Linked DNA regions of Homo sapiens: regions 1 and 3 are each linked to region 2. The links come from fine-mapping of genetic effects on gene expression. A gene starts in region 2. Each other region holds a variant in brackets. All regions are shown on one strand. Distances are between the middles of the regions. Region 1 overlaps HNMT (histamine N-methyltransferase). Region 2 holds the start of HNMT (histamine N-methyltransferase). Region 3 holds the start of LOC107985948 (a long non-coding RNA gene).

What was found. PIP is the estimated chance that this variant, and not a neighbour inherited with it, causes the effect.
Region 1: its variant is fine-mapped to the expression of HNMT in whole blood (INTERVAL, PIP above 0.99).
Region 3: its variant is fine-mapped to the expression of HNMT in whole blood (INTERVAL, PIP 0.93).

The regions. Positions count from the first base shown.
Region 1 is chr2:137,998,241-138,006,430 of GRCh38, reverse strand. It overlaps HNMT (histamine N-methyltransferase), which reads right to left. Exons shown (of 6, transcript NM_006895.3): 3 at 5,406-5,513; 4 at 4,237-4,367; 5 at 1,206-1,299. It overlaps LOC107985948 (a long non-coding RNA gene), which reads left to right. Exons shown (of 3, transcript XR_001739719.2): 3 at 1-585. Among named protein-coding and RNA genes, the nearest start is that of HNMT, 38 kb to the right of the region's middle. The variant T/C (reference allele first, on the strand shown) is at 4,188.
Region 2 is chr2:137,961,060-137,969,249 of GRCh38, reverse strand. It overlaps HNMT (histamine N-methyltransferase), which reads right to left and starts at 4,777. Exons shown (of 6, transcript NM_006895.3): 1 at 4,622-4,777. The coding sequence starts at 4,758.
Region 3 is chr2:138,041,134-138,049,323 of GRCh38, reverse strand. LOC107985948 (a long non-coding RNA gene) reads left to right here and starts at 5,586. Exons shown (of 3, transcript XR_001739719.2): 1 at 5,586-5,761. LOC105373636 (a long non-coding RNA gene) reads left to right here. Exons shown (of 3, transcript XR_923367.2): 3 at 2,514-3,844. The variant T/A (reference allele first, on the strand shown) is at 3,955.

The sequences.
Region 1 (8,190 bases), 37 kb before region 2:
CCTACTATTGAGATGAAATATATTCTAAGATAAAAAATACATGACTTCTCAATGAATTGTTATTTCCGTCTACAATACTTTTTCTGTATGATTGATGAATATAATCAAGAATAGGCTGCCTACAATGTTGATAACTAAGTTTACTTTGCAATTCTAAATGCAGTTTATAGTGCTTTACTAGCTCAGAGAGAGGTTAGTAGGATGAGTCCAGTTTCCATAAGCCCTTCTAAATGGGAAATGAGACCTCTCCCACATAAATGAGTATTTTTAACTAAATAGAGATAAAAATAGTATATCTAAATGTTCCCTTGCAGGAGAGGTTGTGTACAGGAGCTCTCTATTGCCAAACTTTCACATAAGGTCAAACCCAGGATTACAAGCTATAACCATGCTTGCCATCTTTAAAGCAATTCTTCATATTTAAGAACAAGTCAATTTTGTGACATACGGTGTTAAAGTATGGGGTCTGGTGTAACCTTAGGAAGACAGAGTCTGCTGTGTATCTAAAATCAACCTGTAAGTACTGGTAGAAAATCCATAAAGATTGCTGAATGAAAGAAGTAATAAATACTGTCCTCAACAATGTCAATGTTTCATTATCTAAAAATGTTTACTTGGGTTCTCTGTGTGATACTTACTAAATCCCTGGCAGCAACTGGACATGCTCACATGCCTCCTTGGAAAATAAAACACCAACACAAAACAAAACAAATGAACTGTTTTTGATAGGCATTTGAAAAAACCTATAGCAAGCAGTGTTGATCATGGCTCTAAGAATGCAAGTCAATTAAAAATGATGACATCTGAAATAGTTTAACCTTTATTTATTAATAAACATCATAGAGGGAAAAGAAACACTCAAATGACACGAAGTAGGTAAAATAAATGTTTACTATTTTTAGTCTCATTTAAAATCTTTTGTCAGTTGAATTTAAGCTATATAAAAAGGATTCATATATAGAAGACAAAGACATATTTTCCCAAAAGAAAGAAGTAGACAGATGTTTAATTCCACTATACCTTCTAAATTGAGAACTGTTGTGAATGACTTCCCTAATACTGTGAAAATTAATTGGCTATGATTAGAGGCCAAGGCAAGAATTTCATAATGAAGACAAAATATATAAGCTTCTTTCAAACACAGGAATCCATGCATACGTGTATTATTGCTGTTTTAAAATTCAGGCTGAATGAAAATAACTTACCTGACACAACAATAATGAGCATCTTAGCATTGGTACCTAAGAGACTATGGAAGAATTTCAGGGTAGCTGGGATGTCTTTTACATAATACAGCATCTAGAAAGGAGGAAAAAGAGAAATGAGCTGCTTCTGTATGTTGAAGTCTTTATTGCTTGGGCTAGATACTCCTAGAAAGTTTGATTTTCTAGTTGAGTGAATTTTTACCCAAGAAAACACTTAAGAAATTTAAAGATTAAAGACGTTGCATGAAGACATAGAACAATAATGTGAGAAAATATTTGGGGAAATGGAAAAGTATGGTATTTGTTCGACTAGAGTCAAATGGTTTTAAATTTACTCTTTCTGGCTTCCATAGCACAGACATTTATAGCTGGAGACACTTAGTCACCATTCCACATGGGGACATGAATCCTATGCCTATTCTATAATTCGTGAATTGCAGTTCTTCTGGGAGAAAATGGTTCTGGCACCATAAAAACAGACCCCATTTCATGGAACGTTACTTTACAATTAAGCCCTTTGCACTAGCTTCTCCATATGCTCACAGATGCTTTTTTAAAATCACAGAAAATGTGACAGCCTCTGATGATGACAGATTCTGTAGGAAGTTGGACTAAATAAAGCATGAGGTTATCTGCTTGGTCACAGGGTGTTTAGGGGTCAGGACACCCATTTTTAATAATTCTGGATCAATCTCTAGTGAAGTACAGGCCTTTCCACCCAACACAGAACTTGGACTTAGGCATTGACGTGGGAAATTTTTCCCCATGGCTTGCATCTTTGGACCCCACCCCCATAGACACTTCTTATATCTCATCTTCATCTTTGTTGGACAAGAATTCAATATTCCATATAGCCTGTCCTTAGAGAATTCATTGCACAAAGGAAAAGTACTTTAGCTGTGCCTCTTTCATATGAATGAATGAAATAAAATGGACCTGACCTGTGCATGGCTCATGGTGCCTTAGGGGCCACACTCCACATTTTCCACCACAGGGACCATAGGCAGGTACCCAAATATAGTGAATCAATATGATGGCTAACAATCTACGATATGACCTGGCTAGAAATGTGGAAGTGGGCCATAGAAGATACCTTAAATTTTTCTCAAAGACAGTGAAATTTTCTGAATTGACAGTGAGGTTGTAAAAGTATCATAAGAGTGTGAGGACTATAATGAGTAATAGAGAGGCAGAGACGCTGCACAGAAAAATGGGGCATAGACAGAGATGGAGAGAGAGGAACAGGATAGAGATTCAGAGGGAAACAGAGTTGTTATAAGAAAGAAGGAACAAACATGGAAGTTTTAAGAGAAATAGGAAAGAGAAGCTGATTCCTGAAATCACAATATTTATAACAGAGAAAAGAATGGGATCCAGGGTTAAGCAGAGGGAGTGGTTTTTGATAAGAGGAGGTTTTTGCAATAAGATGGAAGAAGGAGATGATGCACAAATGCAGTTATGTTTGCAAAGTTAGAGGGTAAAAAATGAGTATCTGGCAGTTTCTATTTTCTCTATACATTATGAAGTGAGGTCATTGGCTCAGAACGAATGGTCTGGGAGAGATTGCAGGAGTGGTAAGGAGACAGGGGAGTTATGAAATAGTTATGTGAGGAAGTGGGAACAAAAGCAAGTCTGGTAGAGAAATATCTTGGCATCCTGGACAGTGATAAGTACTACCTGACAGGCAAAAGATTTCATCAGCTAAAGAAGCAGAGACATAGAATTGCCTGTATATGACACAATTGGAGTATTTCTTCCTTTGACTTCTTGTAAGTTTATTCTTTTGGGGTGATTATCATTGTAGACCAGGAAGAAAAATAGTGTTTTGTCGTTAATCAAGTGGTATTGCCAAAATACGTACATTTCCCGTTGGTAACCAACTTCCAAAACCCATACATCCCTTATGCTATTCAGAAATGTTAGTTATCTCTGGAAATCCAGCCCCATGCTATCTACTCAATAGTCACTCCCTTTCTTTTATTATTATTATTATTATACTTTAAGTTTTAGGGTACATGTGCACAATGTGCAGGTTAGTTACATATGTATACATGTGCCATGCTGGTGCGCTGCACCCACTAACTCGTCATCTAGCATTAGGTATATCTCCCGATGCTATCCCTCCCCCCTCCCCCCACCCCACAACAGACCCCAGAGTGTGATGTTCCCTTTCCTGTGTCCATGTGTTCTCATTGTTCAATTCCCACCTATGAGTGAGAATATGCGGTGTTTGGTTTTTTGTTCTTGCGTCACTCCCTTTCTATAACATGTATGAGTCAGTTTGTCGGATCTGGATAATGGAAGTAAAAATTTATTGAACTGAGGCATCATTTAACCTGCCCCTTCGACCATATGTCCACTACAGAAACACTCTGGGACATTGGTCCACCCAAACCATTAGAGCCACTAGAGAATATGTTATGATGCTATCATTCTCAAATCTCTATATAAACATCCAATGATATAAAAATAAATTAAAGACTGGGTGCAGTGGCTCACACCTGTAATTCCAACACTTTTGGAGGTTGAAGAGGGAAGATCACTTGAGCCCAGGATTTCAAGACCAGCCTGGGCAACATAGTATGACCCCATCTCTACAAAAAATAAAAAATTAGTTGGGTGTGGTGGTGCACACCTGTGGTCTCAACTAACCAGGAAGCTGCAGTGGGAGAATTGCTTAAGCTCAGGATTTTGAGGCTAGAGTGAGCTAAGATCATGCCACCGCACTCCAGCCTGGATGACACAGCGAGACTCCCATCTCAAAAAAGAAATAAGAATTAAGCCAACATTTTTAAAAATGGATAACTTGTAGAGGTATTTTGATTAGAGAAAACTGGTTTTTGGAATGTTAAAGAGAATCTTAGTATAATAAACATCTTTACCTTTTATTTGGGCAGATCATGGTCACTTGTAAAATTAGAAATCAGAAGATTTTCATTTACCTTTTAAAAATTAGAATAGTAGATATTCATTATATATATA[T/C]TCTGAAAAGTCTTCTTTCTGAGTATATATTATAATACATATTTCTTACTTGAATCATATGAATAAAGTCCCACTTTTGAAGCTCCTTTTTCTCCAACATTCTACTTTGGTATTCAGATGATGTCTCCTTATGCCAAGCAAACTTTACGTTCTCGAGGTTCGATGTCTTGGCTACAAGCTCTAAAATACAGAGAAGAGGTGACACACCATCAATTTTAATTGCAAATGTGGAAACCATTTCCATTTAGAATTTTAATGCAATCAATGTTATATACAAACAGATAGAAAGAACGTTTTTCTTTCTTATGTCTGGGAGACCAGAGAGTTCATACTGCTTTTTTTGGTTTCTAGTATTTAATGAAATTAGAGGTGAAAGAAAGAGTCAGGAAGAAATAATTACAAGAACCCTGGGCAGAATAGGTTATATTGTCTTAGTATTAATGAAGAATCAACTGGTGAATTTTATCAATGGAAAGTGAATTGGAAACAGATATGTTTGTATAATTCAGGAGAAGACAAACTACAGTCCAGGGACTATATCTAGCCTGCTACTTATTTTTGTATGAACCGCAAGCTAAAAACATATATCGTTCTACTTCCTGACTTTGTGTCACTGCCATTCATGTTTCACGTCATTATATTTTTGAATGATTTAAAAAAACAAAAGAAGGATGCTAATTCATATGTGAAAATGATATGAAATTCAAATTTTAGTGTTTACAAATAAAGTTTTATTCAAACACACCCATGCTTGTTAGTTTACCTATTTTTCTTTTTGGCTGCCTTTGTGGCACATGGCAGGTTGATTAGTTATGGCAGAGACTGAATTGACCTTCTGAATCTAAAATATTTACTATTTGGCCTTTGCCAGGAAAAGTTTGTGAACTTTTACTGTAACCCACTAAACATAAGCTCTTTAAGGTTGGTTTAAATAATTCTGGATCAATGAATGAATCTGTACTTAAGCATAAACATCAAAAGGTAATCATTGATGACAACTGGGGAATGGATGAAGTGTTAATAGAAAAGGGAGTTTATTATTCACTGTTCACATTTTGAGATGTTTAGTCATGCCTGCCAAGAACTAATTCAGTTCTTCTCCCAATAAGCTTGTGAAAAGCATACCACAGTAACTATATTTTTAATCATTCAAGGGAACAATTTGAGTTAAGTCTTTTGGGATAGGATCTGGTGTAGAGGACCAGGAGTTACAGGTACCTTTGTATTTGGCAATTTGTTCAGCACTTGGCTCAACAACTTCATTGTTGATACAAACTCCTGGGTATTGAGCCTGAACTTTGGAGAGAATTTGAAGATCAATTTCACCTAGAAGATAAACATATGGGACAGGTCACATCATTCCAGCAAGAAATGATTAAAAACAATTTTAGCTGATTTATTATCTGCCCTACCTTTACTAGGAAAGCCTAACATAAATAAAGAATAATGTTCAACTGCTGCCCTGCCATGATGCAGGGCAGCTAGGTTCTAAGTAGGCATAGTAATGTGACTCAAGGAGGGCTGTGAGTGCCATCCATTCGTTTACATGATCTTTAACATCTATCACTATATTTCATCAAATCAAAGATGCTGTTGATTGTAGAAGGAAATTAACCCTTATTTTTGTTTCACCAAGTTAGAAAAAAGCCACTGTCAATTAAAATTTTAAGATTTTTATCAACTGGAGAGCATAACAATATCAGAGGTATTAAAATACGAAAAAAAAATGCACCTCAGAACTGGCAGAGTAGGCTAGGCCAGAAGAGTACAAAAAAATGTCAGATTAAATAAAGGGTACAAGCATATGTCAGGTAAAATAAAGAAGAAAAACATGTCAGATATCTGCCCTCATAAACACTATTACCTGTTCACAGACACAGAAATAGCCCTGGCTCAGTTGAATCAAGGTAGGAAGAGGGAAGAGAACATATGGGGAGAGGACGAGAGATGATGCCAGAGTGATGATGCTTCATGGGGGAAGATCACTCATGAACTCTGTCACTCCCAGGGTAAGTGGGAGTTAGCCCAGAAACTGTGGGGAAGTGAGGGATTGCAGGTACAGGGGACAAGATGACAGATGCACACACAGAAAATAAAAGAGTATATTTGGAACTACTAGCAGTCTAGATTTCTTAGAATATTGAGCAAGGCAGGACTTCCAAGCAAGAATCCCTGCCCTGGTGAAAATTCAGCCTGTAAGGGTTAGTGTAAGAGAGATGACAATAAGTCAGATGGACTTGAGTTTTAAACCTGTCTTCTTCACTTACTCGGTGTATACGACTTTGGGCAATTTGCTTTACCTCTCCAAGCTTCTTTTTTTTTTTTATTAGAAAAATAAAAATAATAATAGTACTTAATTTATTAGTTGTGAGGGTTAAATGAAGTAATGCATATAATGCACAGTGCAAAATAAAGTTGGCAGTGAATAAATGTTAGCTGTTCATTATTTTTATTGTTATCTTGAGTACATCTATTTGAAAATATCTCTTCTCTCCCTCTTGCTGATGCCTCCAACTTATGTTTTGCACTTTTATTCAGTTAGGTTATGATGTTGACCTTCACTAAAATGGAAATACCTCCTGGCAAGATTAGCATAGGAAAATGATGTTAGTCTTTAACATTTGGCATAAATGACATTAGCAGAAACTTTCCAAGGCTGCACATAGCAGGAAGCAAAAGCAGAGGTCATAAGACTGGGAGGTCTGGAAGGAAAGAGATGAGGAAGATAAACCAGGAACAGAAGATGCTAGACTGGGAAAAGACAGTGGTCCAGGTGCATATGAGAGTCCCAAGTACTGACAATAGGAGATGGCGTACATGGTGTGTGTGGAGGGAAGGAGGGAGAGTGGGAAGGAAGCTGAAATAGAGTATGAAGTCACTTATGTGACAATTTTCTTCACAGCCAGCCCTACCTACTTGAAATCATGTATTTCTTCACTGATGACTATAGCTGCCATTTATTATTGGCCACCTACTATTTGCCAAACACTGTGCTAGGCTTTTTACCTGGAACATCTCATTAATCCTGACAGCAAGTTCCATGATATTATTAATATTCCCAACTGGATTAGGTGATTTGAGTATGTTGACATTCAAGGGATATTGATATACCTGAAGTTTAAGTCACATTTGTCTAAATCTACAATGTTTATTCTTCTAACTCATTCAACTAAGAAGTAGAAAGATCACAAATGCTAAAAAGACATGAAAAGCCTTTTATTCTTCTGTTCAGCAACTATTCTGAAGGGAAAAAAAGACAACTAAGACAAAAGGCTGGTAAGAATAGCTGTGGGCTAATGGGAAATAGATTCCAGCTTGCCCCCAAAAGACTAGAGACCAAAATTTTCTGTTCTTGCCTCATATTAACCTAGCCATACATTTTAAATGAAAAATTATCAATTATGAGGATCTCAAATTCGACATTTTGAAAAAGATAACTGAAATGCAATTATATCCCCTCAGGGCTTGATGAGCTCTCCTCCAAAGATGGACCTTGACATTTCAGGTTGGCCTGGTTGGCAAAATATATCTAGCACAGTCTGGGACATGTTCAGAGCCAGGCAGTCCCTCTCCCTGGGGCACTGATAGAGGACACAATGCTAGAATCACAATTGACATATGGAAACCATTGGTTTGCATAACAGCCTCTAGAGTATAAGCTCATGTGTGCTGGATTCCTGACAAAAATAAATTAAGTTTAAGAAGAGGTGATAATGCAACTATTTCCTTAAGAGTCAATTAGAACGTAAAATCTATTTCTGACCTCATAAGTAGGGTGACCATACTTGTTTGTCAGGGACATTTCCATTTTATACCTGTTGACTTAGTGTCCATCTGCTTTCGTTTTTTGGTCCTAACTTGTTCATTTTTAATAAAATATCATTAGCAGAATTTTAGTTTTGGAAGTAGTTTTTAAAAAAGAACATTTCATAAATTTACTAATATGAGAAATTTGTTCAATGCATACAAATTTCAAAAATTATAATAATTTTAATTATTTTAC
Region 2 (8,190 bases):
AATACCAACTTCTAAAGATCACTGGATTGTGAAGAATATACAAAGAAGACAGAGAAGAAAAGAAATAAAGCACAGAGAGGTACCAGAGTAATTGGAGGCAGAGAAAGCCCGTCGTCATGGCAAAAGCAGCAGAGTGTACTACTTAAAAAAGGAAAAATCTCCATCGAATTTGGCAATACGAGTGTCTTTAGTAATGGCAGTTGTAAAAGAAGATTGAAGACTGAAGTCAGATGGCAATGGGATTAAAACTGAGCTCAAAAATGAGGAAGCAGATCTAGAGTCTGTTGAAACAGGGTGAAAGAGAGAAGGAAAAGAGATGACTGCTGTAGGAGAACCATGAAGGGAAAAGGATGGTGTTTGTTTCTTTGGACTTTGGGATGGCAAACAAAACTGTGTTTTGTCTACAGTGCAAAAAGCCTGCTCAGTCACAGGATGGGAACAAAAATTGAAGTAAGGTTCTAAAGGAATCTTGCAAAGTCTAGGGTCGAGAACACCTATAAATGATTTGCCTTCTTCAATTCTAATTATCCTCCAACTCATAATCCTGAGTCCTAACACATCCATTTCTATCTACACCTTTTGTTCATTCTTTAAAATGCTTACATCTATGACAGCATAGGGAGGCTATGAAGCAGAGCACCCAAGTTGAAATCCCAGGTTACTGTTATGTTACCTTGAGCAAGTTATTTGACATCTCTGTGAAATAAGATAATAATATCATCTCTCTTGTAGGATTATTAATAACTGTTTCTAATTCATGGAGAAGTTGTGAGGATTCAATGATTTAATTCATGCAAATCTCTTAGAAATGTATCTGCACATGACAAGCACTCCACATATATTAGCAATTATTATGATTCTAGGTACATGTAAGTGATTTATGTGAATTAACTCTTTGAATCCTTGAAATTCCTCTATGAGTTAGATACTATTATTCATCCCATTTCACATATTATAATGACATCAAATAATTATTGAAAACTTACTATTTTCTAGCCAAGGATTTAAATGTTTTATATGCAACAACAATAACCAACTTTACTATTTATAGTTATTTACTATAATTTTTCCTGCCCCCAAGCCCTGCCCCACCATCTACCCTCAAATAGGGGATTGAAGAATTCCTCTATAGGGAAACAAATCATCTCAGTGATAAAGTTAACATGATTTTATATCTGAGGATCTCCCAGGAAAGAGCTGAGTCCACACTCAATTATTCAGTGAGCTACTCACTCAACAAACCCTGCCCTGACTTACACAAAGAGAATCTGACTACCTTTTAGTGCCTCATTATTTGATTGAATAGAAAACCAAGGCTCTTTAGGTGGTTGGGGAGCTGTCTAACATAAGAAACAGAGATGGAAAGAGGCAGAGAGAGCAGAGGAACATTTTGTAATGAATAAGAAGGTATTACATCTGGGAATGATGAAAAGAATGCTATAGAAAACATTCTTGGAAATTAAAAATATAATAGTAAAAAGTTAATACATGGGCTGAAAGAGGAAAGTTGTAGCAAACTGGAAATATAAGAAAATTAGGTAATCAATCCAGGAAGTATTTGATGAATAAAAGTTCCAGAAAAAGAAAACAGTGGTGAAGAATGATTACCAAAGTTCCGCATAACTGAAGGATCTGAATCTCAATTGAAATAGCCCAGGGAGTACCCATAAAATGGGTAAAAAGGAACCATTTCACAGCTCAGTATTTTAAAATTTCAGAATACTAGACGTAAGAAGATTCTAAAAAGTTCAAAATAGGGAAAACAAAACACATAGCAATGTAAAAGTTATTCCACATGCCAAGGATGAGAATTTTGAGTAGCATTTGATTTATTTTTTTCTCTTGTTTGAGACAGGTTCTCACTCTGTCATCCAGGCTGAGAGCAGTGTCTCAGCCATATCTCACTGAAGCCTCGATCTCTCGGACTTAAGTGATCTTCCCACTTCAGCGTCTGGAGTAGCATGTGCATGCCGCCTTGTTCAGCTAACTTTTTCACTTTTTTGTAGAGATGGGATCTTGCTATGTTGCCCAGGCTGGTCTCAAACTCCTAGGCTCAAGTAATCCTCCCGCCTCAGCCTCCCGAAGTGCTAGGATTACAGGCGTGAACCAACACATCTGGCCAGTATTTTATTTGTTAACAGCAATTCTGGTATCTAAAAGACAGTGGAAAAGTACCTTTAGATCTATTATACAAAACCATTTTCAGTATAGAGTTCTATATCCAGTCAAACGATTAACATAGAACCAAGGGATTTTTAAACATACAAAGTCTCAAAAAGTTTACCTCTCGTTCACTCTTAAAGTTCTTAAAGAATTGTTCAGGAAACAAAGGACCGAGGAAACAAAGAAAAGAAAGGCATGAGATATAGAATCAGGGAATCAAATAATGGAGAAAGAAAATGATTCTCAGAAAGTGAAATAAATTCCCTCCTTAATAGTTGTATAGCAGGCCAAAGCAGATCTTCCTAAACTGAAAAAAAGAACAGAGGGCTTCAGAAAAGTTGTTCCCTTGGGGTAAAATAAACAGATTCCTTGATATGTTTGCATATATTGAGAGGAGATTAATATATCTGCTTGGGGATCAAAATAGTAATAGGTACATGGAGAACTAAGAAAAGAAACCAAAATCAAGGCAATAGTCAACTCTAGGGAGAACAAAAAGTTGTACGTAAAAGGAAATATAAGCATAGTCGAATATATTGCTCAATTATTAAGAATATGTACATAGGCAAAATAACATAAACACTCAAATTATTTAACCAAAATTTTGACTACATATAGTGACATGATAGGGTGGGAAATATGCATGCTTACTTAGCTATTTTAATACAGCGAAATGAAGAAATAGAACAATAACATGTTATTTTGAATTATGAAAGAAAATTCCATAAATAACTAAAAGATTTCAAAGTGCTGAAAGTGGTTGCTTCCGGAGAGTGGGAATCAAGAATGGAGTGGGTGGGGTTTGTTATAGTCCCCACACACTTTAGAACCATTTGATGTTTTAAAATATGGCATGTCTTGCTTTAATAAAAATTTAATAGGCTCGCTCCACACTCAATTAGCACAGTGAGCCACAAACTCAACAAACCCTGCCCTAACATACACAAAGAGTATCCTAATCACATTTTGGTACTTCATAACTTATAGACAACTCTAAGTAACAATTTTAAAAGTCCTTCAGCTAAATCTTATTTCAAACATTACCTTCAGGAAAAAAATAAATGACACTGAATCTGATCATTCCTAACTATATACTACTGTTATAAGACAAACAGTGTGCCCTTAAAAATTCTTCAGTCTTTCACAGATTTTATAATATTTCCAGTTAGATTTAAACTTTGAAGATAAGGAAGGGGTCATTCATCATCGATTATGTTATCTCCATCCACGGTACCTCTTCAAACCAAACTGTGTATGGCTGAAGAAAACCAAGGATCTGGTAAGCTACAGACATGAGCAAATACTTTTAGTACTGAAAAAGAATTGAGAAATTAACTCATTACCTTTAACTTTAGAAATGAGCAAAGAAACCCAAAGAGGTTAACTATAATTAGTTCCTAGGTAAGAAGTTCTCTATATTTGCTATTTGCTTTGATGTTTGCATCCTTATCCTATTACATATTAATTTTTAATATATAATATCCTATTTTTTGAAAGCTAACATTTAAAATCTGAATCATGTTAAATAGAAAAGGAAATAAAATTTTATGTACATCTAATAATGCCTGCTCTGGTCAGACATAGGTACTGCCCTGGTGAAAGAATTTCAGGCCTGCAATAGAGAAATTCAGCAAAAGATAAAATACCACTTTCCTTTGCTGTTTGCAAATTGGATCCATAGTCATTTCTTCCCAGTTTTCCATTATTATTTCCTGAAGTAGAATGAGTTACAGCAAATCACCCCCAGATAGGTGATTTGATTATCTTTAGCATGTGGAATCTGTTACTCTCATAATGCTTATCAGCTCTGGCACAAATTGAACACATTAATCACCCAAAAAAAAGAACTCTGCAAGAAGGATAGGAACCAGTGAGTTTCACTGATAATGGGAAAATGGTTCTTTTTTTAAGGAACACATTGCTAATATTAAGCTGAAAGAAAAAGACAATTTTGAGGAAGAGAGTGATAACTATAACAATGGATAAGGAAAATTAATTTAAATGGATATTATGAGAACTGAGGCACTCAATCCTCAGGGCAAATCGTACTTTGGCAATTATTTATATTTGATTCTAATGAAAAGCATACCAGACTCCCTTTGGGACTTTTTTGGGATGTAAAATTTGGAGGAGGGCTGAAAAATCTGAGTTCGAAGATTAGCATCTTATCTTTTCCCAAATGAACATGGATTTGTGCCTTCAAATGGTTAACGCTTATCTCTATGCAGCTGGAAATACAACACAAATGGGAGCCTTTGAGTGTTCAAAGCAAACGTGGAACCAAAGCACTGCAGGAGAAAGGCAGGGCAGGGCAGCGAGGAGGGGACGACGGGGAGCTGCTATCAGTAATTCGCCCTTATCCCTGTGCCCAGCCTGCGAGGCTGAGCGAGACCCATCTATCACTGACGCACAGCCAGTCTGAGGCTTGTCCCTTTGACAACAACGTCCCTTTTGTTACCTTCCTATTATGCCTGGCAGCTTCTTGTCCATGAATTCCTGCATGCACTGGTGTTCCGTGGAATGGTTGAGAAACCTCCGGAAAGATTCAACATATTTCCCGTGGTCAGAAAACAAGCTCCTCATGGAAGATGCCATATTTGGTTTTCTGAGAAAGACAGAGCAGGAAGCAAGGTTTAAGTTCCCCTCCTTCTCTTCCCAGTTCCCTCTTTCTTTCCCCACCCCCACCAGTTTCTATCCAAAAAAAAAAAAAAAAATGCTAAGCTTGTTTTGAATTTAACATGCCACAAAGGCTGGCTTGTAGAGCTCATTACTGAGTCAATATTTGAACGGGACTTTGCACTGATACTTTAACCCCTATACGGTTGTTTTGTAAGAAATAGAAGTATTAAGCAAGGCTGTAAATCCACTGCTAAAACTTTTCAAATTCCTGAGGTTGAAAGGTCATAAAAACAAACTGTATTCAAATCACTTCCTGTTTTGTCAGCAAAGCCACAAGTAAGTTCCAAGTGGGAAAGTGACTGTTCGAAGTGGCAAACACCAGGATAAAGAGGACAGCTACACAGCACTCTCAGAAATCTACAGCAGTGAAATCTTTAACGGAAGACTGTCATCTGCCTCTGTGCTTTCTACGGGATTGTTTTGGGCCTTTACATTCCTCAGCACTTGAATTTTCAACTTATCTGCTGCATTTCTTCAAATGCTGATTTGTTGTAACTCAGAAATTATCTTAAAAGGAAGTCACGAAGGAGGAGCCCAAGAACTCGTAGCTAGAAGGTGTCAGAAGCTGCATTTAGGGGAATGAGAGTGGTAAGAGAAGTCTTGGAGCAAGAATGCAGGACACCAGGGTAAAAGTGCAGTCCATAGAATCCTTCCCTAAGCGCGCTGAACACGACGAGGTCATAGATACTTCGCTTGGCTGGATGAGCCTTTGGAAACCCAGTGGTGTCCCCACCAGAAGAGCCAAAGCTTCAGAGTACCCACACACAGTCTTTTTCCTGGGAAGAGGTCTTTAAGAAGGTCATCCTTTATCTAATATTGGGTTGTTAATAATAGCATCCAACTCATGGAGGAGTGCTGAGGATCAAATGAGTTAACTCATATAAGTCTCTTAGAAATATGTCTGCTTAAACCGTCCCTTCTTCTAATTGAGTTCCCAAGCTGCCCTCTAAGCATTCAAAACACTTCCCAACTCTCTTTTTTTTTTTGAGACAGAGTATCGCTCTGTCGCCCAGCCTGGAGTGCAATGGTGCGATCTCCACTCACTGCAACCTCCGCTTCCTGGACTCAAGTGATTCTCCTGTCTTAGCCTCCCGAATAACTGGGATTACAGGCACCCGCCACCACGCCTGGCTAATTTTTGTACTTTTAGTAGAGACAGGGTTTCACCATGTTGGCCAGGCTGATCTCGAACTCCTGATCTCAAGTGATCCACCCGCCTCGGCCTCCCAAAGTGCTGGGATTACAGGCGTGAGCCACCATTCCCAGCCCCCAACTCCCTTTTATAAGTATGTTTTGTTCTCACTATTCTTAGAGCCAGTGCTTTTACCCCGGGGGAAAGTGTAATATCTGGACAGGCAGATTGCCATGGATGACTCTGCCCTTAATGAACTGTCTGACTTTGGCTGAAACATAAGCTGCAGTTTGCTCATCAGTAAAATGGGAATGAATTTTATCTTATAGGGTTGTACTGAGAATAATATAACTAATGTTTAAAAAGTGCAAGCCAGTCCCTCTGCAAAAAAAATATATATATATAAAATGACAAAAACAGTCGTCACTTTATTCACGGACATTGAAATTTGAGTTTCATATCATTTTCACATGTCATGAAATATTATCCTTCTTTGAATTTACTTTAACCATATAAAAACATAAAAGTTATTGGTAGCTCATGGGCTGCACAAATCAGGTTGGTAGGGTTGGGTTTGGCCACAGGCCTTATTTGGCCAAGCCCTGATTTAGCTCCTGTGCCCTTCACTCATCCTTAGATAAGGTCTTTGCTGGTTCTTTACTCACATCTCTATCCAACCAGCCTTCCCTTTCCTCAGATGGGCTCTGACAAACTTTTGCTTCTATTACCATCTTCCATTTTTCTCTTTAGAGCTCAACCCAAATCATTCATTCATTCATGTGTAACATCTATCTGTTTTTGTTTCACTTTAACCAAAACCAAAAATGGCCAATAATGTATTCATCTATTGAATAAAAGTTTAGTAAGAGTCTCTGTTTGCTATTCTGCTGAGGAATACTCCTGACATGACTTTCTCTTGGAAAGCTGCTGTTAAGGCCTCCCTTAACTGAAACTTGGTCTTCTGAGACCATCACCTCCCTTGCCTGCTGTCAAATATTCTCCAACAGAGCCAGTTCTTCATGTGGATCCCAGTGAGGACTTCCTTTCCGTCTCCACTGTTTCCACCTTACTTGAGATTCTCTTTATTTTTCACTTATTGTGCTTTTTTTTAAAAAAAAATTAAGTTCAAGAGTACATGCACAGATTTGTTACATAGGTAAACATGTTTTATTGGGGCTTGTTTTACAGATTATGTCACCACCCAGGTATTAAGCCTAGTACCCATTAGTTATTTTTCCTGATTCTCTCCCTCTTCCCACACTCCACCTTCAATAGGCCCCAGTGTGTGTTGTTCCCATCTAATGTTTCCATATTTTCTCATTATTTAGCTCCCACTTATAAGTGATAATATGCAGTATTTGGTTTTCTGTTCCTGCATTAGTTTGCTAAGGATAATGGCCTCCAGTTCCATCCTTGTCCCCACAAAAGACATGATCCCATATTTTTTATGGCTGCATAGTATTCCATGATATACATATGTCACATTTTCTTTGTCCAGACTATCACTGATGAGCATTTAGGTTGATTACATGTCTTTGTTATTGCATATAGTGCTGCAATAAACATTTACATGCATGTGTCTTTATAACAGAACAATTTATATTCCTTTGGGTATGTACCCAGTAATGGGATTGCTGGGTTGAATGGGATTTCTGTCTTTTGGTCTTTGAGGAATCGCCACACTGTCTTCCACAATGGTTGAACTAATTTACACTCTGACCAACAGGGTATAAGTGTTTCCTTTTCTCCACAACCTTGCCAGCACCTGTTATTTTTTTACTTTTTCATAATAGCCACTGTGACTGGTGTGAGATGGTATCTCATTGTAGTTTTTATTTGCATTTCTCTAATGATCAGTGATGTTGAGCTTTTTTTTATATGATTGTTGGCTGCATGTATGTCTTCTTTTGAAAAGTGTCTATTCATGTCCTCTGTCCACTTTTTCATGTCTTTTTTTTATTCTTGTAAATTTGTTTAAGTTCCTTATAGATAATGGATACTAGATCTTTGTCAGGTGCATAGTTTGCAAAAATTTTCTCCCATTCTGTAGGTTATTTATTCTGTTCATAGTTTCTTTTGCTGTGGAGAAGATCCTTAGTGTAATTAGATCTCATTTGTCAACTTTTGCTTTTGTTGCAATTACTTTTGGTGTCTTCGTCATGAAATCTTTGTCCATGTGTATGTCCTGCATGGTATTGCCTAGGTTGTCTTCCAGA
Region 3 (8,190 bases), 80 kb before region 2:
CTTTGTTTTTTCCTTTACTTCTCTCACTGTTGAAGTTCTACTTAACCTCCAAGTCAAAATAAAATACAAATGCTCCCAACAAATGAACTCCCCACTACCACCTTCCACCCTCAACACCATGATGCTTGGTTTTCCACTTATTGCACCAATAACAGTTTCACACTGTCATCATCTCCATTGCAGCCTTCCTTCTCTGTAGAAGTCAGAGTTGGTTTCATCTTTGTATTCCCCAAACAAAAATAAGTTGCTTATATGGAGCAGAATTTCAGCAAATATGTGTTGGCTTGAGCTAAATAGTGATTATTATTTTGTCTCATACTCCTGCCCTTTGTTAATTAAGCATAGAGAGGTTAAAGGATTTTAATGGAATACAGAGTTATTGCACCATCTAACTTATTTATTTTTATAAAGGGTTTCTGGAACCACATTGCAAACTTCTTAGGTGTAGGCTACACTTGAGTTGAATGCAGCACCAAAAAGCACTTCCAATCTGTTCTTCCCTTGAAAGATCACTGATGGATGCTGGTGGTATTAGTCTGTTCTCATGCTGCTGATAAAGACATACCTGAGACTGGGTAATTTATAAAGGAAAGAGGTTTAATTGACTCACAGTTCCACATGGCTGGGGAGGCCTCACAATCATAGCTGAAGACAAATGAGGAGCAAAGTCACTTCCTATGTGGTGGCAGGCAAGAGAGCTTGTGTAGGGGAACTCCCCTTTATAAAACCATCAGATCTCATGAGACTTATTCACTATCATGACAATAGCATGAGAAAAACCTGCCCCCATGATTCAATGACCTCCCACCAGGTCCCTCCCAGGACATGTAGGGATTATGGGAGTTACAGTTCAAGATGAGATTTGGGTGAGGACACAGCCAAACTATATTATTGGTCTAGTGAAAAACTGCAGTGCTGGACATTATCAGCCAGATTCTTCAGTGACATTTTTTGGTAATAAAATCCCATTGGCTAAAGAAACTGAAACAGAAGGATTAGAAAGGCAGCTTCTCCATCTTTGGACATGGAAATCAAAGGGGAAGAGGATGGCTAACACTTTTCTAAACTTCTTCCAGGGGATTGATCTAGTTTTATTTCAATTTGGAGAAATAAAGTGTGTCATCAAACTTGCATCCTGAACTTTTACATTTTTGACCATGTTTTTACTGTTAAGGCAGTTATGCATGTGTGCCTATATACACAGATAAGGTCTGGGGAAGACTGTGAAGCTGCAATGGGAAAATACATAACAGTATAAAATATAAGCATAGTGATTTAATCTGTTTGCAGATAATGTCAGCCTTACTTCAAAGCAAGTTCTAGTTGCTATTTAGTCTTCCATTGTCTTGAAGGATCTTTTGGAGGGAAGAATAACAGAATGTTTGACTTAGAAGGAACTTGGAAATTGTACAGCACTTTCATATGATGTAGAAGTATCCTAAAGCCAGTGCAGAAGTGAGACCTGATAATGGTCACATGGAGTAAACAGCACCAGTGAGACTGGAATCGGATGTTTCTGTGCCACTTCGTTCTGATCAAAAGCTACCTATAGTAACTACTCAAAGATAGCATTCTTTGCTTTCTTCCTAAGCATCAGGCATGCTTTATTTCAAGCTGTTTCCTTTGCAAAATTATTACTTTGCAAATATTAGCAGCTATGTTGGAAAACAACACAATTTCAGTGTTCGCTATGATATGAAAGGAGAAGGAAAGCTTTGCAAATATTTTTCTAAATATAAGTAATCCTAACTATGGGGCTAATCATTTTCCTGTCACCTTCATCCTCAATCTTAGTCTAAAAGTATATGCTGTTGAAAAACTTGTTCTGACAAGTACTTTTTTTTTTTTTTTTTTTTTTTGGATAGCAACACTTTTCTTTGCATCTCTTCAACTTTGGGCATCTGCAGGTCCTGCTTTGGCTTTGTTCCTAATTACTATATTATTAGCTGATTTTCATCTATTCTTGGCCATTTAGCCTACGTGGACTTGTTTTTTCTGCCCTACTAATTAGGAGTTGAGCAGTGGGGTAGCCAAAACAAGACTGCCCAGATTCAAGAGATAACCTCATTCAGTATCAATTTTCTCATTTCAACAAACTAGGGCTTCTTACATTTTGATGCATTCGCTTTCAATCCTAATCCGCTATTTAATAAACCTCCCAAATTAACAACCCTGGGTCCATGTGGCTTATCCAAGAGAGCCCTGTGAGCTCCTGTTAATTCAATCTCAGTGGCAGAGTCTGGGCTTGATCTGCTTCCTGAGAAGCTGTATCTAGTTTTAAGCTTCTGTGTTTGGCAGCTTCACTTGGAGAGAATTTACTAATAACTCAGAGTGTAGTTTCCTCTGGGTGCCTCTGAGTGTGTGTAGGTTTTACATACCACAAGAGAATGAAACTATTGATAAAAGTTGAGCTTTACTTCACTAAATAGGAAACTCACGCTGGATGGAAAAGAAACTTAGACTCTTTGAATTGTTCCCATTAAATCTGAAAAGTCCTAATTAATTCTCTTCAGTGGTCTGCATTTCCAACCATTTATGGATTACAGTAGAACAAGGAAAACAGGGCCTATGAAGAACCCCCACATGGTTGAATGCTCATCTGTTGCTGTCTTGAAACTCTAAAAGCTGTAATCTTTGAAGGTATGTTTTGAATGTGCAACCTTGAAGCATGTGGTTGAACAAAGGATGTACATGGAAAAAAGGTAAATGCTTTCCCCTGTAATGACACTGTTGTCCAGCTTTTTGAACAAGGCTCTCCCTTTTTCATCACTGCCCCGAGTAAGAATGAGGAATATATCAGAGTCCCTACTTCAGCATGGCCATTTGTACCCACATATGGCCCTGTAACCTTCTGTCCTGGCTTGCATCCTACTCACACATCACCTTAATGACTCAGGTTCTCTTTTTCTCTCCTTCACTAGCAGTTGTTTAAAACTATTTATTTAGCACTCGCTCTATGCCAAACACCATACCCAGCACTTCACCCACATCGCTCATGGAATCACCATAGTGGCTCTCTGGGATCAGTGTTCTCATTATTCCCATTTTATAGGTGAGGAAATTGGAATTTAGGTTAATAACTTGTCCTGAGTCACATGGTAAATGTTCGAATGAGGATCTGTTAGGGTTTGAATCCTGACAGATTAAAGTCAGAGCCAACGCCCTAGAAACATGAATACAGGAAAAACAACATTTTAAAAAATGCCCAACTCAAGAATATGATCTGAATATTACACCCTAATTAATCCACTCCATGATTTCATCAGTGGTCTTTTAACATTTTATTGATTTATTTTTGCTTTTTTAAAAAAGTGTCTTCAATATAGTAGTATATTAGATTGTGATCTACTAAAATCCATCTTAACGAGGCATCAATGAGGGAATGACAGCTGTGATAATAGTAATAATAATGACCATCTACTTTCTCTCATTTCATTTTCGTTATTTAAAAAAGGAGTAGCTGAGTAACCTGTTTTTCTGCTTAAGGTCCTTAGGTCAAAATTGCACTTTCATTCACTTTTTATTATATTTATTTCCTGATCTCTCTTTCTGTCTCTCTTTCTCAATCTGAGACTAGGTTTAGAAAAATGTGTGTGGTACAAGTGGCAAGTTCAAAATCTGTAGGTTTCAATTTCTAGAACCTGATTCCTTAAAAGGACATGTGGCCTCCATACCAAACCTGCAAATATTTCCAAAAACTCCTCTTTGTATAATTCACCATTTATGTCCAAGAACAATCCAAAAGCCTTGCTGCAAGACACTCTCTCCCTTGACTGCCACGTGGGTCACTGCAAATCCTGATCTTAGATGATATTTCAGTCTGAAAAGAGGGAGAGTGGTTCACTTTCATGTCATTCCTCATCTTCTTCTATGGCTACTAAGTCAAAATCACATTGATACACATTTTATAATGTTTTCCCCAAAATCCATGTGTTAAAGCTCTAACTCACAGTG[T/A]CTTACTGTTAGAATGTGACTGCATTTGGATATAGGGCCTTTAAAGAGGTTATTAAGTTAAAATGACAGCATTAGGATGTGCCTTATTCCAATAAGACTGGTGTTTTTAGAAGAAGAGGAGATTCAGCACACAGACACACCAGGGATGTGCGTGCACAGAGGGACGACCATGTGAAAAGACAGCAAGAGGACAGCCACCTGGATGCCAAGGAGAGAGGCCTCAGAGGAAACCTACCCTGCTGCCATCTTGGTCTTGAACTTGCAGGCTCCAGAACTGTTAGAAAACAAATTTCTTGTTTTTTTGTTTGTTTGTTTGTTTGTTTTGAGATGGAGTCTCACTCTGTCACCCAGGCTGGAGTGCAGTGATGCGATCTCAGCTCACTGCAACCTCTGCCCCCTGTGTTCAAGTGATTCTCCTGCCTCAGCCTCTCAAATAGCTGGGATTACAGGCGCCTGCCACCATGCCTGGCTAATTTTTGTATTTTTAGTAGAGATGCGGTTTCATCATCTTGGCCAGACTGGTCTTGAACTCCTAACCTTGTGATCCACTCACCTTGGCCTCCCAAACTGCTGGGATTACAGGCATGAGCCACCACACCCGGCCACATTTCTGTTCTTAAACCACCCTGCCTGTGGTATTATGTTACAGCAGGCTTAGCTGACTAATACAGGATTCTTCTCATTTGCAGGCAAACACATTCTTAAACTGCTCACCTTGTTCCCTGTCCCTTCCAGCCATTGTCTACTATTTTGAACCCTTCTTCACGGTCAACTTCCTAAATCATTTATGTAGTCATCCTTGACTTTTTCCATCACTCATACTTAACATCCAGTTTATTAGTAAATTACACTACCTTTAGCTTTAAAATATTTTCAGATTTTGATTTTTTCTCACCATTTGACTACTACCATCTGGTGCAAGCTGCTATTATCTCTTACCTGGATGACAACGATAGTCCCCAATGGCTCTCTCTGCTTCTACCTGGTCCACCTTGCAGCAGCTTCTGATGAAAACCTACTAATTACCTTGCAACTTAGAGGGAAAGACTGTCTTTGAAAAAAGATTTCTAAAGCCAGACATGGTCTACTCTACCACCCCCTTTCACCACGCTGACCTCACCTACTACCCCTTTTTACTTCATGCATTCTACTCAAGCCACACTGGGTGTTCATTGTTGTTTCTTATCAATGCTATTCATGAAGCCACTTCAGGTCTCTTGTATGTACTGCCTCTTCTGCCTGGAATGTACTCTTCCCAGATTTTTATATATATATATACTTTAAGTTCTAGGGTAAACATGCACAACGTGCAGGTTTGTTACATATGTATACATGTGCCATGTTGGTTTGCTGCACCCATCAACTCGTCATTTACATTAGGTATTTCTCCCAATGCTATCCCTCTCCCATCCCCCACCCGCCGACAGGCCCCAGTGTGTGATGTTCCCCGCCTTGTGTCCAAGTGTTCTCATTGTTCAGTTTCCACCTAGGAGTGAGAAAATGTGGTGTTTGGTTTTCTGTCCTTGCGATAGTTTGCTCAGAATGATAGTTTCCAGCTTCATCCATGTCTCTGCAAAGGACATGAGCGCATCCTTTTTTATGGCTGCATAGTATTCCATGGTGTACATGTGCCACATTTTCTTAATCCAGTCTATCATTGATGAACATTTGAGTTGGTTCCAAGTCTTTGCTATTGTCTTCACAGATACTTTCATGGGGCATGCTCTCTCTCATTTTCTATAGGTCTGTGCTCCGACACCTCATCATGAGAGAGGACTTCCCTAGCCAACTTCTCTGACCTCCCTAGGTAAGACAACAACCATATCCACTCAGCACTCCTTTAAGTCCCTTTAAGTCTGGCTTAATGCTGCATTATTCTTTCCAGCTGACATATCACATATTTATTTGTATGTCTATTGTCTTTCTTCCCTCTACAACAGAAGTAACTTGAGACACTGTCAATTGACTGCTCAGTCCCAGCATCTGTAGCAGTGCCTGGAATGTAGTAGGTCTCAATAATTCTTTCCTGAAAAATAGCTCCACTTTATTATTTCCCCTTTATTCTCAAATTTATTCCAAACTGGTTTTTCCTCTTGTCTTCTGAATTTTCTCTTATCAGGGTCTTCAATGACCTCTGTTCTGCTAAACCCTCAACTAACTTTACCTCTCAGATGGTTTTGACAGAATAAAAAATGACCCTCCTTTTGAATCACTCTCTCTTCCTAACATCTGTGATTTTTCTTCTGTGCCGCTGGCCAATCCTCACTTTCTCCTCCTTTATGCAAACCTGAAGCTGTGCAGTTCTTCAGAGATCTCACCAGAGTCCTCCTCTCTTCTCACACTTCAGTTTCTCTCCAGGTGATCTCATCGCCTCCCATGGCTTTAAATACCATGGGATATTAAAGTCAGGAAATCTATTTTCTCACTCAGCATTATCTTCTGAGCTTTAGGCGGATGCTGTCATTAGGAATCTAGGTGTGATGTGTGGAAACTAAGTGGCAAACCTATTTGTCCTTGAGTGTTACTTCCCTCAGAAAACATTTGATTGCTTAACTTGGAAAGCTGGGAGTCTCTTCCCTTTCCCTTACTTCTCAGATTCAATTCACTAGCAAGTCCTGTCCATTCCACTGTTGAACCATACCTTCTGTGTCCGCTGACTTCTCTTCATCTCCTTTATCACAGCCAAACCACCATCATTCCCTACCTGAACCACTGCAACACCCATCTAAATGGTGTTTCTGCTTCTGCTTTTGTCTTCTTTTAATCTGTTCTCTATGCAGTCACCAGTATAATCATATGATCATGCCACTTCCTTGCTTAAAATACTTCAAGTGACCCGCATTGCAATTAGGTTTTTAAGTCCATCACGATCTGGCCTCTAGCTATTTCTTTTGCATGACGTCTCATATCTCCTGCTCCCACTCATCATCCTACACATGCTTGAACTCATAAATAGCTCTTATTTATTGAGCACCTATTATGTACATTGTGGTAGTTATTTAACCTATTTACTGTATCATTTTCACATTATGCAAAACAAGCATTAATGTCCCTAAATTTTAAATGAGAAAGTTGAATTCCAAGGAAATTAATCATGCAACTGAAATCATATTTGTTAAATGGATGAATAAATGAATGAATGAATTTGACCAATACCACACAGTTGGATGTTATAGATATTATTCACCACACAGGTTTATTGGGATGATACACAGGCCAATTTTTCAAAGCATAAAGTACCAAAATATAAATTTTTAAATCATATTACAGTTTGAAGTTTGTGTTAACCTGTATTAAAAAGGCACTCCTGCTGGGTGGGAAATAGACAACTAAAAGGCTGAGTTCTCAACATTAAAGAGCTTATTTTCTCACTAGGCGGGCAGGGCTTACATACATTGAACTCATAAGGAACAATAAAACATGGCATTTAAAAATCCCTGGGCGAACAACTGGAAAAAATCCTGTTTTGCATGCTGTTGCAGAAGGACACAAATAAAGAAAGGGGGCCCCAACCGATCAACACAGTCAACTAAGTTAGCCAATGGAGTGATGCATTGTAGACAGTCTCTGACATACAGTGTAAAAGCCCCTAGAACTTAGCCCTGAGCACATAACCAACAAGAGTGTGTCAAATCTGAGCTTACCAAATAGTACCTAACAAATGAGGTCTCCGCTGACAATATGTGCACCCCACTCCTACAACTGCCCACTCCATTAACCTCCATACCCTTTAACCTGATGTATTCTCTTCCTTCTCACCACCTGACACCATCTAATTATCTGCTTGTCATCTGCTTGTTGTGTCTCTGGTCTGTAACAGGGGCTAGCACTTGGCAGTTGCTGGAGAAATAATGTGTTACCTGCATGAATCATGAAGCACTAGATTGAACTGAATCCAGTCCTTAACTGAGGGACTCAGAGATTAGGATGGTCACTGTAAAAATTATGGATTCTACTGTTACCCCTTCTTGACTGCAAAATACTGCCTAATTTTCTGCTGTCAGTGTTCAGGATAGGTTTCCCTTCCTTCTTAGCACATCTTGTAATAGGGAAAGCTGCAGCCCCATCCACCCATTGTCCCCAGAGAGTATGACCAGAGGCACAGGCCAGGCCCTCTTTAAAGACCCTCTGAGAGCTTCCCTGGGTAACTGTTTGGTGTCTCAGTGGCCTCACTTCCTTTGCTGCTGGCTCCAACCCAGAAGATCACCAGCTCATCTCCAAATGTGCTATTTATGA